2 separate regions of the Homo sapiens genome follow, and region 1 is linked to region 2. Evidence: fine-mapped expression QTL. A gene starts in region 2. The other region holds a variant in brackets. All regions are shown on one strand. Distances are between the middles of the regions.

Evidence for each region. PIP is the estimated chance that this variant, and not a neighbour inherited with it, causes the effect.
Region 1: its variant is the best candidate, but not a certain one, in a credible set for the expression of MAPT in testis (GTEx, PIP 0.62).

Annotation. Positions count from the first base shown.
Region 1 is chr17:45,612,668-45,621,262 of GRCh38, forward strand. It overlaps LINC02210-CRHR1 (LINC02210-CRHR1 readthrough), which reads left to right and starts at 7,679. Exons shown (of 15, transcript NM_001256299.3): 1 at 7,679-7,705. LINC02210 (long intergenic non-protein coding RNA 2210) reads left to right here and starts at 7,662. Exons shown (of 6, transcript NR_138260.1): 1 at 7,662-7,705. RefSeq lists an enhancer at 5,816-6,795. The variant C/T (reference allele first, on the strand shown) is at 4,248.
Region 2 is chr17:45,889,593-45,898,187 of GRCh38, forward strand. MAPT (microtubule associated protein tau) reads left to right here and starts at 4,962. Exons shown (of 13, transcript NM_001377265.1): 1 at 4,962-5,094. It overlaps MAPT-AS1 (MAPT antisense RNA 1), which reads right to left and starts at 5,921. Exons shown (of 2, transcript NR_024559.1): 1 at 5,888-5,921. It overlaps MAPT-IT1 (MAPT intronic transcript 1), which reads left to right and starts at 6,191. Exons shown (of 1, transcript NR_024560.1): 1 at 6,191-8,595. RefSeq lists enhancers at 4,905-5,790, 5,791-6,676, 7,563-8,447.

The sequences.
Region 1 (8,595 bases), 280 kb before region 2:
GTGTGTGCCACCACACCCGGCTAATTTTTGTATTTTTAGTAGAGACAGGGTGGGGGAGTGTTGGGGGAGATGGGGCATGGCAGGGAGGGGATGGCGGGTTTTACCATGTTGGCCAGGCTGGTCTTGAGCTCCTGGCTTCAGGTGATCCTCCCACCTCAGCCTCTAAAAGTGGGATTACAGACATAAGCCACTGCGCCCAGCATTTTTTTTTTTTTTTTAGACAGTGTTGCTGTGTTGCCCAGGCTGGAGTGCAGTGGCACAATCTCGGCTCACTGCAACGTCTGCCTCCTGGGCTCCAGCGATTGTCGTGCCTCAGCCCCCCAGTAGCTGGGATTACAGGTGCACACCATCATGCCTGGCTAACTGTATTTTTAGTAGAGATGGGGTTTCACCATGTTGGCCAGGCTGCTCTCAAACTCCTGGCTTCAAGCAATCCACCTGCCTCAGCCTCCCACAGTGCTGGGATTACAGGCCTGAGCCACTGCACCAAGCCCCAGCTCCAGATTGTGAGTTTCAGAGCCAGGCTAGATAGGATTCAGACTCAGAACTGTGAGATTTCTGCTGCTCAGGCTGTTAACCAGTGACTCATGGTTTTTTTTTTTTTAGGCAGAGTTTTACTCTTGTTGCCCAGGCTGGAGTGCGATGGCTCGATCCCAGCTCATTGCAACCTCCGCCTCCCAGGTTCAAGTGATTCTCCTGCCTCAGCCTCCCAAGTAGCTGGGATTACAGGTGCCCGCCACCATGCCCAGCTAATTTTTGAATTTTTAGTAGAGACGGGGTTTCACCATGTTGGCCAGGCTGGTCTCGAGCTCCTGACTTCGTGATCTGCCCACCTCGGCCTCCCAAAGTGCTGGAATTACAAGCGTGAGCCACCGCGCCCTGCCTGACTTGTGGTCTTTTGAGATTATTTCTGATGTCCCATAGACATTTCAAAAGCAAAATGTCAAAAGCTACACTTGCCTCTCAAACCTTCATTCTCTCTGTGTGATAGGCACCCTCCTTCCCATCTTCCTTCGCTTCCATGGGTCACTCAAAGCTGAAGACCTGCAAGCCATCTCAGGATCCTGTCCTGTATCCCATCAACACTCATCACACCCTCTCAATTCTGGCTCCTAAATACCCCTTGGATTTGGCCTCTCCTCCCCGTTCCCCACTGGCATTGTTTTATTTCAGGTCTTTATGATTTCTTGCCTGGGTTTCTGCAGCAGCCTCCTAACTGCTCTCCCTGACTCCAGTCTTGCCCTCTCTGTTTCATTTTTCATATTGCACACAGGGTGATTTTTCTAAAATGTAAATGTGACCACATCTCTTGCAGGCTTAAAACCTCTCAAAGGTTCTTCACCTCCTCAAGGCTGCAGCACACACCTCCCAGCACAGCTCTGCAAGTTGACCCCGCCCTTCTTCTCCATCGGTGGTTCTCAGAGTGTAGCCCTAAGAGCAGCAGCACTCTGACCCGCTCCATCAAGATCTCTAGGCTTGGAGCTTGCGAGACTATGTAAACAAGGCCAGTTTTTTGTTCGTTTGTTTGTTTTTTGGAGACAGAGTCTCGCTGTGTCACCCAGGCTGGAGTGCAGTGGCTTGATCTTGGCTTACTCCATCTCCACCTCCCAGGTTGAAGTGATTCTCCCGCCTCAACCTCCTGAGCAGCTGGGACTATAGGTGTGCACCACCACACCCAGCTAATTTTTGCATTTTTAGTAGAAATGGGGTTTCAGGCCGGGCGCGGTGGCTCACGCCTGTAATCCTAGCACTTTGGGAGGCCAAGGCGGACGGATCACGAGGTCAGGAGATCGAGACCATCCTGGCTAACATGGTGAAACCCCGTCTCTACTAAAAATACAAAAAATTTAGCCGGGCATGGTAGCGGGTGCCTGTAGTCCCAGCTACTCGGGAGGCTGAGGTAGGAGAATGGCGTGAACCCAGGAGGCGGAGCTTGCAGTGAGCCGAGATCACGCCACTGCACTCCAGCCTGGACGACAGCGAGACTCTGTCTCAAAAAAAAAAAAAAAAAAAAAAAAAAAAAGAAAGAAAAAGAAAAAAAAAAGAAATGGGGTTTCACCACATTGGCCAGGCTAGTTTCGAACTCCTGACCTCAAGCGATCCACCCGCCTTGACCTCCCAAAGTGCTTGGATTACCGGTGTGAGTCACTGTGCCCAGCCAACAAGGCCAGTTTTTATGCACATTTAAGTTTGAGAACCACATTGCAGTTAATCTCATCTGGTTTCCTTTCTTGAACTCCATGCTTTAGCCTCATTGAACCATCAGTTTCTGGAAAATGGTATATTATCCCTCACCTTCTATAATTTGCACATGCTATTCTCTGCCCTTATCCCATGGCAATGGCTTTGTCTGCTTTTATCCATATTCCCCACCTCTGTGGAAACTGGAAGGCAGGGTCACCACCTTATTCATCTTTACATCTTTAGGGTCTTGGACCTGACATACAGTAGGTGCTCAATAACTATTTTATTTCTCTCTCTCTCTCTTTTTTTTTTAGAGAAGGGGTCTCACTCTGTCACCTAGGCTGGAGTGCAGTGGCTCAATCATGGCTCACCTCCCCCTCAACCTCCTGGGCTCAAGCAATCCTCCTGCCTCAGCCTCCCAAGTAGCTGAGACTACAGGCACTCACCACCATGGCCAGCTAATTTTTAATTTTTTTGTAGAGATGGGGGTCTTGTTATGTTGCCCTGGCTGGTCTCCAAATATTGGCCTTAAGTGATCCTTCCACCTCAGCCTCCCAAAAGCGCCACTGCACTACAGCCTGGGCGACAGAGTAAGATTCCATCTCAAAAAATAAAAATAAAGATAATACACACACACATATACACATACACCTCTTTATTTCTTCAGCGAGACCTGAAGATATATATGCATAATATAAGAACAGGATGCTATAAAAAATGAACAATAAGAAAACAAGGAAAACTATTATAAATTAGAAATATGATAACCAAGGCTGGGTGCGGTGGCTCACGCCTGTAATCTATTACAGGCGTGAGCCAGTGAGCCTGGCCATTCAATAACTATTTTCTTAATGAACATTGAGGGTGAGATGAGCAGAAACGTAACTGCTAAAAGCAGGCAACATTCAGCTACCAGGATTTATGAGGGAGAACACAGTAAACTGTGCTATTACTTAGGAATACCTAGAGTCAATGTACATTTATTTTCATTTTACTCTAGCCCCACTGGTGATCTCTGCCCAGTAATCTAACTAAATTGATGACAGTGGGAATAAAAGGAAATCATAGATATGTATTATTGTAAAGGAAAAGAAATGCAAATGAATGGGTACAGGGACAGTCTATACAATTGAAGATCTCATCTCTTCATATATATATATATATTTTTTTTTCTTTTTTTTTTCAAGACAGGATCTTAGCACCTACTATTTGCAAGACTCCCCCTATGTTAACCTTTACAGCAACTCTCGGATGGATGTTTTATTATTGAGAGAACTGAGAGACAGAGGTCATTAAATATTTGTCCAAGATCCTACAGCTGCAACATGGTAAATCCACTGCTATTGGAACTTCCTGTTAAGTGAGTTCCATGGCCCCAAACTGCATTCCCACCCATGTTGCTCACAGATTGGTCACAATGTGGCTCACAGTCATAGGCACAGGTGAATGGAACAACCATTATTTTCGATAATGATTCTGGGGTATCATCTTTGACTCAAAAACGCAAACTGTTATTATTATCTATGCAGTCTACAGCCCTCTGCTCTACCAGCTGAGCTATCGAAGAGTGCACAAGCTGTTATTATATCACAAGATTTTTTTTTTCAGACAGGGTCTTATTCTGCGGCCCAGGCTGAAGTGAAGTGGCTCGATGGTAGCTCACTGCAGCCTTGAACTCCTGGGGTCAAGCGATCCTCCTACCTCAGCCTCCCAAGTAGCCGAAACTACAGGCAGGCACCACTATGCCTGGCTGACTTTTGTATTTTTTGTAGAGACGGGGTTTCGCCATGTTGCCAGGCTAATCTGCAACTCCTGGGCTCAAGCAGTCTGCCCACTTCACCCTCCCAAAGTGCTGGGATTTCAGGCTAGAGCCACCATGCCCAGCCCACAAGATCTAAACGCTACTGTTGAAGCAAAAAGACTTGAAGACAGAATTTGCCCTCCTAATATAAGCCCATGGTAACCTGAACCTCCTTCACCCTAACTCTCATCACAGTGTATTGTGATTACTTATTGAGGATGAAATTTGATTTTCCTTTTTGATGTACTTCTCCAACACAGTA[C/T]CTGGTATGTGGAAGGCACTCAAACTAGGGCCAACCTGGTGCCAGCTAACCTGGGACTAGTGCAAGCTCCTGAAATTCACCTGGTCAAGGGACACATGTTCACAGGATCTCCTGGGGTTGTGTCACCAAAAAAAAAAAAAAAAAAATTTCACCTGGTGTCTCTAGTCACCATGATTTTCTCTAAAATGCCACACAGAATTCTATGTATGGAATTTTTTTCTTTTCTTTTTTCTTTTTCTTTCTTTTTTTTTTTTTTGAGACAGTCTGTCGCCAGTCTGGAGTGCAGTGGCGTGATCTCGGCTCACTGCAGTCTCCTCCTCCCGGGTTCAAGCGGTTCTCCTGCCTCAGCCTCCCGAGTAGCTAGGACTACAGGTCCGTGCCACCACGCCCAGCTAATTTTTGTATTTTTAGTGGAGATGGGGTTTCACCATGTTGGCAAGGATGGTCTAGATCTCTTGACCTTGTGATCTGCCCGCCTCAGCCTCCCAAAGTGCTGGGATTACAGGCGTGAGCCACCGCGCCCGGCCAAAATTTTTTAAAAATAAGGAAAGTTCAAGTTTACTTTAGATACCATAGTTCAGGATTTAAACTCCTGTCCTTACTTTGGAATGTCATTTTAGATACTTATGTGATTGACTGAGGAAAAAGACATTGTAACTGATCTTATCCCCTTTTAAAAAAAAAACCAGCTAACAATTATTCATTTAGTCTTCTGTACATTGTGTGAAATAAAATATAGAAGACTAGGGGACAGTTTCTGCCCTCAAGGAGCTTATGTGGTTTTTTTCGTGCGTTTTTTTGTTGTTGTTGTTTTTGTTTGTTTGTTTGTTTTTTGACATGTTCTTACACTGTCACCCAGGCTGAAATGCAGTGGTGAGATCTCGGCTGACTGCAACCTCTGCCTCCCAGGCTCAAGCGACCCTCACCTCAGTCTCCTGAGTAGCTGGGACTACAGGCATGCACCATCATGCCCAGCTAATTTTTGTGTGTGTGTTTTTGTAGAGACGAGGTCTCGCCCTGTTGCCCAGGCTGGTCTCGAACTCCTGGCTTCAAGTGATTCACCTGCCTCAGCCTCTCAAAGTGCTGCGATTACAGTCATGAGCCGCCTCACCCCGCCAGTCAGGCTCTTAAAAAATCCATCACACAGGCCGGGCGCCATGGCTCATGCCTGTAATCCCAGCACTTGGGAGGCCAAGTCGGGCGGATCACGAGGTCAGGAGATTGAGACCATCCTGGCTAACACGGTGAAACCCCGTATCTACTAAAAATAACAAAAAATTAGTCGGGCATGCTGGCGGACGCCTGTAGTCCCAGCTACTCAGGAGGCTGAGACAGGAGAATGGCGTGAACCCGGAAGGCGGAGCTTGCAGTGAGCTGAGATAGTGCCACTGCACTCCAGCCTGGGAGACAGAGCGAGACTGTGTCTCAAAAAAAAGAGAAAAGAAAAAAAATCCATCATATGTATTCACTAATTTAATCTTCACAACAACTCTAAAGGGTAGGAACTATTTTTTTTGCCCCATTTTACAGATATGAAATGAGAGGCTGTGTTGAAGGTGTTTTCTGGGGTTGATTTAAATAGAATTAATAAACTCAGAAAAAAGATTCTTAATCGATAAAGGTGGTTTTTTTTTTTTTTTTTTTTGGTTTTTTTTTTTTTTTTTTGAGTCGGAGTCTCACTCTGTCATCCAGGCTGGAGTGCAGTGGCGTGATATCGGCTCACTGGAACCTCTGACTCCCTGGTTCAAGCAATTCTCCTGCCTCAGCCTCCCGAGTAGCTGGGATTACAGGCATGCGCCACCATGCCCGTGGTTTCACCATGTTGGCCAGGATGGTCTTGATCTCCTGACCTTGTGATCCGCCCACCTTGGCCTCCCAAAATGCTGGGATTACAGGCGTGAGCCACCGTGCCCGGCCTTGGCTTTCATTCTTATTGTCCCATGGTTACCAGAGCCTAAAGAGGTAAAGAGGTAAGACCTATGAGGCTCTCACAGTTTTTTTTTTTTTTTTTTTTTTTTGAAACAGGGTCTCGCTCTGTCGCCCAGGCTGGAGTGCAGTGGCGCGATCTTGGCTCACTGCAGCCTCCGCCTCCCGGTTCAAGCAATTCTCCCACCTCAGCCTTTCCAGTAGCTGGGATTACAGAGGCGCGCCACCACGCTTGGCTAATTTTTTTTTTGCATTTCTATTAGAGATCGGGTTTCACCATGCTGCGCAGGCTGGTCTCGAACTCCTGACCTCAGGTGATCCACCCACCTTGGCCTCCCAAAGTGCTGGGATTACAGGTGTGAGCCACCGTGCCCGGCCTCTCTCATAGTTTTATTATTCTATTTTCCACAGACCCTTCCTCCCTTAATTTTCATGCCTCTTTAATATTGTTTCTTTTACCTCACTGACATTCTTTTTCGTCCTCCTACCTTTTACTGTGGGTGTCTTATTACCCTTCTTTGGGAGTTTATCCTTTAGCATGTCATAGATCACTATCTTTAGGCAGAGGACCCTGCATCTTCTCTAGTCCTGATTGTCTACCCTTTCTCAAGTTCCATAACTTCAGTTGCCTCTGGGACACCTTCACTGGGTTTTACAAAACCCTGTTACCGGGAACTGAACATATTAAAAGCTAAGATTCCTCCCCAAATCTGCATGTTGCGCCAATTTTCCTGCCCAATTATCTTGTCTGTCCCCTGGTTTTGCGACCTTATTTAAACATTTAAATCCTTTTCTTTAAATTGGAATCTTGATGAGTGGTGCAAAAATCAATGGATACAAATGATATGCCGAGATATGTAAGTCTTCCGCCCACTGGTTCCCTAGGCACTCAGTTCCTCTCCCAGGAGGTAACCACTGTTGCCAGCTCTTAGAGTGATTTTTGATTCCTTCTTCTACCGGCTCTATCTCAAGTCCTTCCCTGTCTGTGAGATGTGTGCCCTTTCCTTTCCAGGCCCTAGTGAACTGATATCTGGTTGAGTTTATATATAAACATTTATATGTGTATATTTTATATACATATATAACATCTCTCCCTATGGCCTTCCGGCCTGGAGTTTTCATCACGTCGCTTCCTGGATGAAAGAATCTCGAGGGGTGAGGGGCAGGGGTTGGGGGTGATGGAGAAGAGAACCTAAAGGGGACTTAGGTAGGGGGTTCAGAGTTGCCAACTGGCGTGACGCTCTGTCAGGATTCCTATTCCTATTCCTCCCACCTCAGGCCCCCTTCTAGTCCTCTCAGCCAAAAGCCTCTCGTTTCCAAGGGCTGAGACAGAGACAGAGACAACGAGATGCACAGAGACAGAGACGCCAAGGCACCTGCATCCCTCTTCCCCTTCTGTCCCGCCCCATCGCTCTGACGGACACCATTGCTCAGCCAATGGCGCTCACGATGTGCCCCTGAAGGGCCAATGAGCGCCAGAGGAGGGCGGAAGATTCCCCGCCCCCACTTCTAGGCTTGGTTGAACCGTGCAGGTAGGTCCGGGGCTGGGGGAGCTGCCTTTGGCACTGGTGCCCCTGGGGGTGGGGGCACGAGTGGGCCAGGGTGATGGTGAGGTAGAGGAGGTGTCCCTGACCCGACGAGCTCGAGGGAGCGGCCTGGCTGGGAGGCGGGGGGCCGCGGGGCCCGGGGAGCGGGCGCCGCCGAGGGCCCTGGAAGCGGCGGGGCTGGGGGAGAGGGGACGCGTGTGTGGGGCACGGGGACGCCCGCCCAGCGCCCACTCGTAGGCCTGGGACGCGGGCTGCCGGCCGAGTGGCCTGAGGGCCTGGCTGCCCGGGGGGCGGGCCGGGGCCGCGGCCGGGGGCGCGGAGCGGAGCTCGGGGCGCCAGGCCGAGCCGAGGTGGGACGGACCGACGCGGAGAGGAAGGGAAGCCGCATCCCGCGGGGCGCCCCTCCTGAAGCGAGCCGGGCAGCGGCCGCGGGCGCCCCTGCCCTGAGCCCACCCCGCGCTCTGCCCTCCCTAACAATGGGAATGGGGCAGAAGGAGGCGCCCCACTGCGGGGAGGTGAGGGGTGGGTTTGGGACTGGGGTCCGCGGTGGGGGGAGGTGCGATCTCGGGCTCTCGCCTCTCCGCTCCCTCTGGCTCTGGAGTTGGGGGCCCCTGTGGGGCTCTGAAGTCCGCCTGAGACTTGGGTCAAGAGTCAAACTGTCGCCCCCCGCTCCTCCCCCAAAATCCGGTGAGCGGTAAGGAAAGTGATGCCAAGTCTTCGAAGCCTCAGTGACAAACGCATAGCAAGAACACATCCACTCCAGAGGTGTTTATTTTTTATTTTTATTTAAAAAGGGGTACTTTTCGACATTTATTTTTAAGAAGTGGGTGCTGTTATTTTTGTCCCTACGCGGGCAAGCCTCCATTTTAAGCGAA
Region 2 (8,595 bases):
CCTGGCTGGCATGGGGAGCTCTGGAGTTAAATAGGGCCATCAGACTTTCCCAGTGTGGGGCCAACATGACTGGGTCTTTATACCCCCACCTCTGTCAGTCACTCAACGTGGTCTCCCTGCAACAAGGTGACTCTTGCAGCCGAGACAATCCCTGAAGGGACAGAGGGCTGAAGCCTGTCTGCCAACAGCACTCCCAGTGGCTGGAACAAGTCCTTCCCTATAGGGGAATCTGGGCGGCACACCTCCATCTCCATGTCCATCACATACGATATCACAGACATTTAAATATTTTGATAACTGTACATAAGAGTTTCCTTTATAATCTTATAGATCTTATTTTATGCATTTGAAAATATTCTTCTGAGACAGGGCTTTTATCATATTGCCATAGGGTGCCACGATATAAAAAAGGTTAAATACTCTCTGATTCAGAAGTATCCAATGATGACTTCTCTCTCATGCATTTAATTGAAAATCTGGTTTTTCTCCTTCTCTGCTAGTTCTCTACCTCTCTCCCCACCTCCCACATCATAGCCTATTCACATATGTCTGAATCTCATGATAGACAAGTTCAGGTTCTTTTCCCAGGTTCTTTTTACCACATCCCCCCACCCCCACATAAAAAGTATATATGGCACAGCCTAGGTTCCACCCAAATCCTTTCTCCTCTTCTTCCTGGGCCCACAACTCTCCTACATACATTGGTATACCTTGCGCTTAGGGATGGCCATGTGACTAAGTTCTAACAGTGGAACATGATCAGATGCCACTTCCAGCCTCTAAGACAGCCAGTGTGTTTCCTCCATAAGCTCCTTCTCTTCCTCCCAACTGGAGACTCTAAATGATGACCCTGCCTCAAGCAAGCAAACAACAAGTCCCTCAGGGGTGGTGTAGGCTGCAAATGGAAGGAGCTTGAGTCCCAAACCTTCCACGGAGAAGGCTGGCTACCAACCTGGATCACTCACCCAAGACTGCTCGAAGAGTTGGTTTGAACCATTGTGTTTTGGGGTCTATTTATTACAACAGTTTAGCTTGCTTTGTGAATAGATTTAGTGGCAGAGCCTCCAAATTCTATAGATACATTGATCTCAGTCCTAACCGCATCTGGAACACCATTAAATAAAGGAATTGCAAACCCAGAGAAGGTAATGAATTTGTCTAAGGTCATACAAGATGGCTAGGATCAGGACCCAACTCTCCAGTTTTCTTTCTTCTCTGCTATTCTGCCTTCTGTGATCCTACATAAGTGGGCATGATTGTATAACATATGCGGCCATGAGATTTCTCTTTCAGCAAGAGAAAGGGACAGGAAGAAAGAGAGGGAATGCATTTTCTTGGCCTGAATTAGTGTGAGCCATTAGTTACCTACATTGACTAAATTATCTGGAATGAACATTCAACTCTACATCACATATAGTTAAAATGACAGATCTGCTTAAGATTGTTTCTAGCATACGTTATTTCAATTTAGGCAAATGTGACCATTCAGTGTGAGGGGACCATACTGTCATTAGGTCCCTGTCAGTTCTCAATTATACTGTTATCTTAGAGGGGGAAAAATGTGAAATTTGAATGTAGACGAGTGTTGATTTGACTGCTACAGTTTATTTTACGTATAGAAATAAAATAATGTGTAGCAAAAGCATTATTACAAAGATGATAATGAAATAACTAGTATTTATAATAGTATAATAGTATAGTATTTATAATAGTATGATAGTTTAATGACTATTTGTCAGATGTTGTGTAAGAAACTTTATACACACACACACACACACCTCATTTAATTCCTGTATCAATCAGGATACAGGACGCTGTGGTAACAACTCCTCAAATCTCGGTGGCTTGCACAACAAATGCTTATTTCTTTTTTTTTTTTGACACCAAGTCTTGCTCTGTAACAGGCTGGAGTGCAATGGTGCAATCTCGGCTCACTGCAGCCTCTGCCTCCTGGGTTCAAGCGATTCTCCTGCCTCAGTCTCTCGAGTAGCTGGGAACACAGGCACGCGCCACCACATCTGGCTAATTTTTGTGATTTTAGTAGAGATGGGATTTCACCATGTTGCTCAGGCTGGCCTTGAACTCCTGACCTCAAGCGATCCACCCACCTCAGCCTCCCAAAGTGCTGGGATTACAGGCATGAGCCACTGCGCCCAGCCCCAAATGTTTATTTCTTGCTCATGTGACATGTACTTCCTCGAGTTTTTCCTTCCTGAGATCTAAGCTGAAGGAACAGCTCTCTGGAGCCACGCCATTCTGGTGGCGGAAAGGAAGAGTAAAAGTGGTAGAACCTTGCAATGCTCTTGAAGCGCCTATTTGGAATGTCTACATCATGTAAATGGTAATGGACAAGTATGTATAATCCCCACACCAAAAAAAGGGGACACTATTGGGGACAATAACCACATTTCAATGCTGCAAGACGGATATTGACTGCACCCCCTTCCCACTTTCAGAAAGAAGAAGAGTAATTTTGCTGAACTCCTTCTAGAGACTGGAAATGTCCCTTCCAGTTGGGGTGATTAGGGAAGGCTTTGGTAAAATTTGAGCTAGAGTTTGAAGGTTAGGTAGACTACTGGTGGGTGAAGAAAGAACAAGGACCTTTGTAGGCAAAGGAAAACCTCAGAATTACAGAGGTGGAAAAAGAGTTCTAGTCAAGCCACTTCAGCTGGCTACAGAGTAGGTGGGAAAGAAAATGGGAGGACAAGGGCTCAGATGATGGGGGGTTGGGGCATTGGGGGGACACTTGAAAGCTAAACTAAGGGGTTGAACTTAATTTAGGAGGCAGTTAGAAGCTTTTACATATTTTTGAGCAAGAGAGTGACATAATTAAAATGATCTGGGCCAGGTGTGGTGGCTCACACCTGTAATCCCAGCACTTTGGGAGGCTGAGGAGCTTGGGTCACCTGAGGTCAGGAGATCGAGACCAGCCTGGCCAACATGGTGAAATCCCGTCCTACTAAAAATACAAAAATTAGCCGGGAGTGGTGGCATATGCCTGTAATCCCAGTAGCTGGGAGGCTGAGACAGGAAAATCGCTTGAACCCGGGAAACAGGTTGCAGTGAGCCGAGATCGTGCCACTGCACTCCAGCCTGGGCAACAGAGCGAGACTCCATCTCAAAAAAACAAAACAAACACACACAAAAAACCAAAAATAAATAAATAAAATGATCACTTCTGAATACTGATCTAACTAGGGGTTGCAGGGTGGGCTGATATAGGGAGAAACTGGAGAGCAAGGAGATCACTAAGGTCCCTACATGTCCAGAACCAAGATAGAGGTCTTGAACTAGGATGGTGGCAGTTAGAACAACAACAACAAAAAGTCAATTCCAGGCTGAGTGCAGTGGCTCATGCCTGTAATCCCAACGCTTTGGGAGGCTGAGGTGGGAGTTAGAAAGCAGCCTGGGCAACACTGCAAGACCTCCTCTCTAAAAAAAAAAAAAAAAAAAAGTTAGCCAGGTGTGGTGGTGCCCACCTGTAGTCCCAGCAACTCAGAAGGCTGAGGTGGGAAGATTGCTTGAGCCCCAGGAGTTCAAGCTTGCCGTGAGCTACGATTGTGCCACTGCACTCCAGCCTGAGCAAGACCTTGTCTCCAAAAAAAGGTCAATTCCACTGACTTTTCTAAGGTGTACACCATCAAGGGGCAGCTCCATCTCCAGGCCATTGGCTCATGAGACATTCTGTAGTCAGAAGGCTAGGGCAGATTGCTTTGAGCAAGCCCCCATGGTGGTTCTCACTCCTACTTCTTTGGGTATATGCCCCTCTGTTTAAAAATAAAGTTAATATGCATTTAAAAAAAAAAAGGAGAAAAAGGTCAGTTCCAGAAACTGTGTGAATAAAGCATTTTACTTGCTTTTTCTATTAATCTATAACATATGTTGATTTTTTAAAAAGAATATAAGAGCTATGCAAATTGGAGCTTCAAGACAACTTCCCATCTCCCTAGGAGGAGATGGCTGCCCTAAACCCCCCTACATAGAAATCATCCCACTGCTTGGGCTTAAACTTGATGTTGGGGAAATGAAAAATCCAAGCTAAGGCCGAAGCCTGGGGCCTGGGCGACCAGCAGAATGAGGACCACTGGTCAGTTTCAGGCTGAGGTGCGTCTTCCAGGGGACAATCTCTAGCTGGCCCTTAAACATTCAGACTTCAAGCTCTATTTACAGCATAAAGGTGTTTCAAAAGACGTGATACAAATAACTGCAAATGCTCTGCGATGTGTTAAGCACTGTTTGAAATTCGTCTAATTTAAGATTTTTTTTTCTGACGTAACGGTTAGATTCACGTTTCTTTTTTTTTAAGTACAGTTCTACTGTATTGTAACTGAGTTAGCTTGCTTTAAGCCGATTTGTTAAGGAAAGGATTCACCTTGGTCAGTAACAAAAAAGGTGGGAAAAAAGCAAGGAGAAAGGAAGCAGCCTGGGGGAAAGAGACCTTAGCCAGGGGGGCGGTTTCGGGACTACGAAGGGTCGGGGCGGACGGACTCGAGGGCCGGCCACGTGGAAGGCCGCTCAGGACTTCTGTAGGAGAGGACACCGCCCCAGGCTGACTGAAAGTAAAGGGCAGCGGACCCAGCGGCGGAGCCACTGGCCTTGCCCCGACCCCGCATGGCCCGAAGGAGGACACCCACCCCCGCAACGACACAAAGACTCCAACTACAGGAGGTGGAGAAAGCGCGTGCGCCACGGAACGCGCGTGCGCGCTGCGGTCAGCGCCGCGGCCTGAGGCGTAGCGGGAGGGGGACCGCGAAAGGGCAGCGCCGAGAGGAACGAGCCGGGAGACGCCGGACGGCCGAGCGGCAGGGCGCTCGCGCGCGCCCACTAGTGGCCGGAGGAGAAGGCTCCCGCGGAGGCCGCGCTGCCCGCCCCCTCCCCTGGGGAGGCTCGCGTTCCCGCTGCTCGCGCCTGCGCCGCCCGCCGGCCTCAGGAACGCGCCCTCTTCGCCGGCGCGCGCCCTCGCAGTCACCGCCACCCACCAGCTCCGGCACCAACAGCAGCGCCGCTGCCACCGCCCACCTTCTGCCGCCGCCACCACAGCCACCTTCTCCTCCTCCGCTGTCCTCTCCCGTCCTCGCCTCTGTCGACTATCAGGTAAGCGCCGCGGCTCCGAAATCTGCCTCGCCGTCCGCCTCTGTGCACCCCTGCGCCGCCGCCCCTCGCCCTCCCTCTCCGCAGACTGGGGCTTCGTGCGCCGGGCATCGGTCGGGGCCACCGCAGGGCCCCTCCCTGCCTCCCCTGCTCGGGGGCTGGGGCCAGGGCGGCCTGGAAAGGGACCTGAGCAAGGGATGCACGCACGCGTGAGTGCGCGCGTGTGTGTGTGCTGGAGGGTCTTCACCACCAGATTCGCGCAGACCCCAGGTGGAGGCTGTGCCGGCAGGGTGGGGCGCGGCGGCGGTGACTTGGGGGAGGGGGCTGCCCTTCACTCTCGACTGCAGCCTTTTGCCGCAATGGGCGTGTGTGTGTGTGTGTGTGTGTGTGTGTGTGTGTGTGTGTGTGGAGGGGTCCGATAACGACCCCCGAAACCGAATCTGAAATCCGCTGTCCCTGCCGCTGTTCGCCATCAGCTCTAAGAAAGACGTGGATCGGGTTCTAGAAAAGATGACTCCCTGCACGCCCCTCCCTGCACCTCCCGAGCAGTGATTCCGACAGGGCCTTCACTGCCCCTGATTTTAGGCGGGGGCCGGCCCCCTCCCCTTTTCCTCCTTCAGAAACCCGTAGGGGACATTTGGGGGCTGGGAGAAATCGAGGAGATGGGGAGGGGTCCACGCGCTGTCACTTTAGTTGCCCTTCCCCCTGCGCACGCCTGGCACAGAGACGCGAGCAGCGCCGTGCCTGAGAACAGTGCGCGGATCCCACTGTGCACGCTCGCAAAGGCAGGGTTCACCTGGCCTGGCGATGTGGACGGACTCGGCGGCCGCTGGTCCCCGTTCGCGGGCACGCACAGCCGCAGCCACGCACGGATGGGCGCGGGGCTGCAGGTGCATCTCGGGGCGGATTTCTTTCTCAGCGCTCGGAGCGCAGGGCGCCCGGCGTGTGCGCTCCCTGCCGGAGGCGCGGGGCTGGCGCGCAGGGCTCGCCCCTCACTGCGGCAGTGGGTGTGGACCCTGGTGGGCGAGGAAGGGGGAGGATAGGCTGTGCCTCCTCCCACTCCCGCCCCCAGCCCCCCTTTTTTTCCCCCTCGGAACGCGAGGTGCCATCTTTTTTCGGCGTGTCACGTCTTTACGGTGCCATGCCAAACCGGGTGGCCGGGCTTCATAGGACAGGGCGGGGCCTGGCATTAAAGGGAGGGGGACAATCAGCGCTGAAATCTTGGCGTTTTGCTGCTGCGGGCGTGAGCACTGGGGGCGTTCGCCCAGCACCTTCTTCGGGGGCTCTTTGCTTTGTCTGTAGAGGTTACGTGATCTGCGCTCCCAGCCCTGGTTTCTGGCTTTTATTCTGAGGGTGTTCAGTCAACCTCCCCCCTACGCCCATGCGCCTCTCTTTCCTTTTTCGCTCCTCATTTCCGAGCCCATTGTTGGATCTCGAGGCTTGCTGGGTTCGATGAACTCGAGTCAACCCCCCGACCCCCGGCACGCATGGAACGGGCGTGACCGCGCGCAGCCTCGTCTCGGAGTCTGCCGGCGCCGGGAAGCTTCTGAAGGGATGGGATTCGAGTCTCCGTGCGCGCTGCGGGCGGCGGCAGAGGGATCTCGCCCCTCCCTACACCCCAAGTGTCCTGAGGGCCACGCCACACCAGGTTGCCCAGCGAGGGACGCTGGCTACCCATCCGGGGATGGGTGGGGAGCCCTGGCGGGGCCTCTCCGGCTTTACGCCCTGTTGCTTCGCCTGGCCGGAGAATGTGAGGAAGGGGCATAAGGTTACTGGTGCTTCGGCCACACCCATCTTTCTGAGCCCACTGGACTGGGCGCAGAGGGGGGATTGCCATGGAAACCACAGGTGTCCGGAGAGGGGATCTTGGGGCTGGCCTCACCCCTTCCCTGCGGAGATTGGGGACCCTGGGGTAGGGGGAGCCGCGCCCAGTCGGCCTCCTGGAGGACACGGGAGGAAGCCCCGAACCCCCGCGCCTGAGGCTGTTTCTGATTGGCCCCTGGAGGCCGCAGACACGCAGATAGGCGGCCCTGGGTGTATTTTTATTAATATTATGTCCGTACTGATTAATATTATTTATCTTAAATAAATTTCACCCGTGTCCAAGTTCACCGCGCCCCCAAAACCGAGTCTGGGGCGGCAGGGGGAACTCCTGGCCAACGAATCCATGCCTCGCCCTCCTGTGATGAACCTGGTACGCACGGTTTTCTGGTTAATTCTATCGCTGAAAACTGGTGCGGGGGGCGCACTTCTGAGACGGAAGAGCATCTAGGAGCTGAATCCTCCACGCGGGTCGCCCAGGTTGATCTGAATTTCTGGGGAATGGCTTGGCTGCCCGCCCGGGACCAGGCCGACCCTCCTTGACGGTGGCGTAGAGGGCTGGAGCCTGGGTACTGCGAGGCTCCTCGCATGGCTGGGCCCGCCGCGAGGGGTTGCAGAGCGGCTCAGGGATCGATTCAAGCATCGTCTCTCCTCCCTCGCCCCCAGACAGAGCTGGGCGCGGGGTTCCCCTTCCAGATGGAGCGAGGGTCTCGGGGTGGCCCCGGAAAAGGGGAGCCCGCGGCCACGGCTACGTATTGCCATCTCGCGAGCAGAGATGTCACCTCCTGCCTTTGGAGGAAAGGGAGCCCGGTGGGGATGAGCGCATTTAGCCCAATGCTGGGAACAAAGCGCACTCCGCGCTTCTGCGATTTCGCTCCATTTTGAAATGTGTTGGCGCTTTGGTGGGGCCGCTGCGGTGGGCAAGGCCGGGGGCGCTGTTAATGGAGGAACCTCAGGGGGACGGTCCTTCGTAGGAAACTCTATCCTGGCTCTGCGCGCGCTTTAAGGAAATGGCTTCCCTCCAGGACCTCGAGGGATGCAGCTTTTGCGCGGATGACGGTGGGGTGCTGAACCAGCCGGTGCGCCTCTGGAAATGTCTGGGCACGGATCCTGGGGCCATCGACGACTCCTCCCCATTCCCAGCAGGCGGGAGCTCTTACATTCCGAGCGAGTGACCCCTCTCACCCTCTGGCGCTCACACACCTGTAACTCCAAACCTCCGTCTCAGAATGGTCCAGGCTGGAAGGGATGATGGGGGCTCCGACAGCGACTGCCTAGCTCACCCCTCTGCGTGCTCAGGCTCCAGGCTCAGCAGGACCAATTTGAGTTCTATCTGATCCCCCTCGGCCCCTTAACTGACCCATCCTACAGGAGACAGGGAAATGTCTTTCCTACCGCGGTTGATTCTGGGGTGTCATTTTGTGTTTTGTGATGGCTGCTTATATTTACTGTATAAGCATTGTATTTACTGTATAAGCATTGTATTATAATTACTGTATAAGCTGCTTATATTTACTGTATAAGCATCTCCAAATCCTCCCTCTACGTAAACAAATTAATGGATAAACAGATAAGTGTATCCCCTGCCCCCACCCCTGCTACGCAGGTCCGGAGTGACTCTTGAAGCTCATACATTCCTTGGCCAAGTTTGCTTCTCTAACAGATGTTTATATAGCAATAACC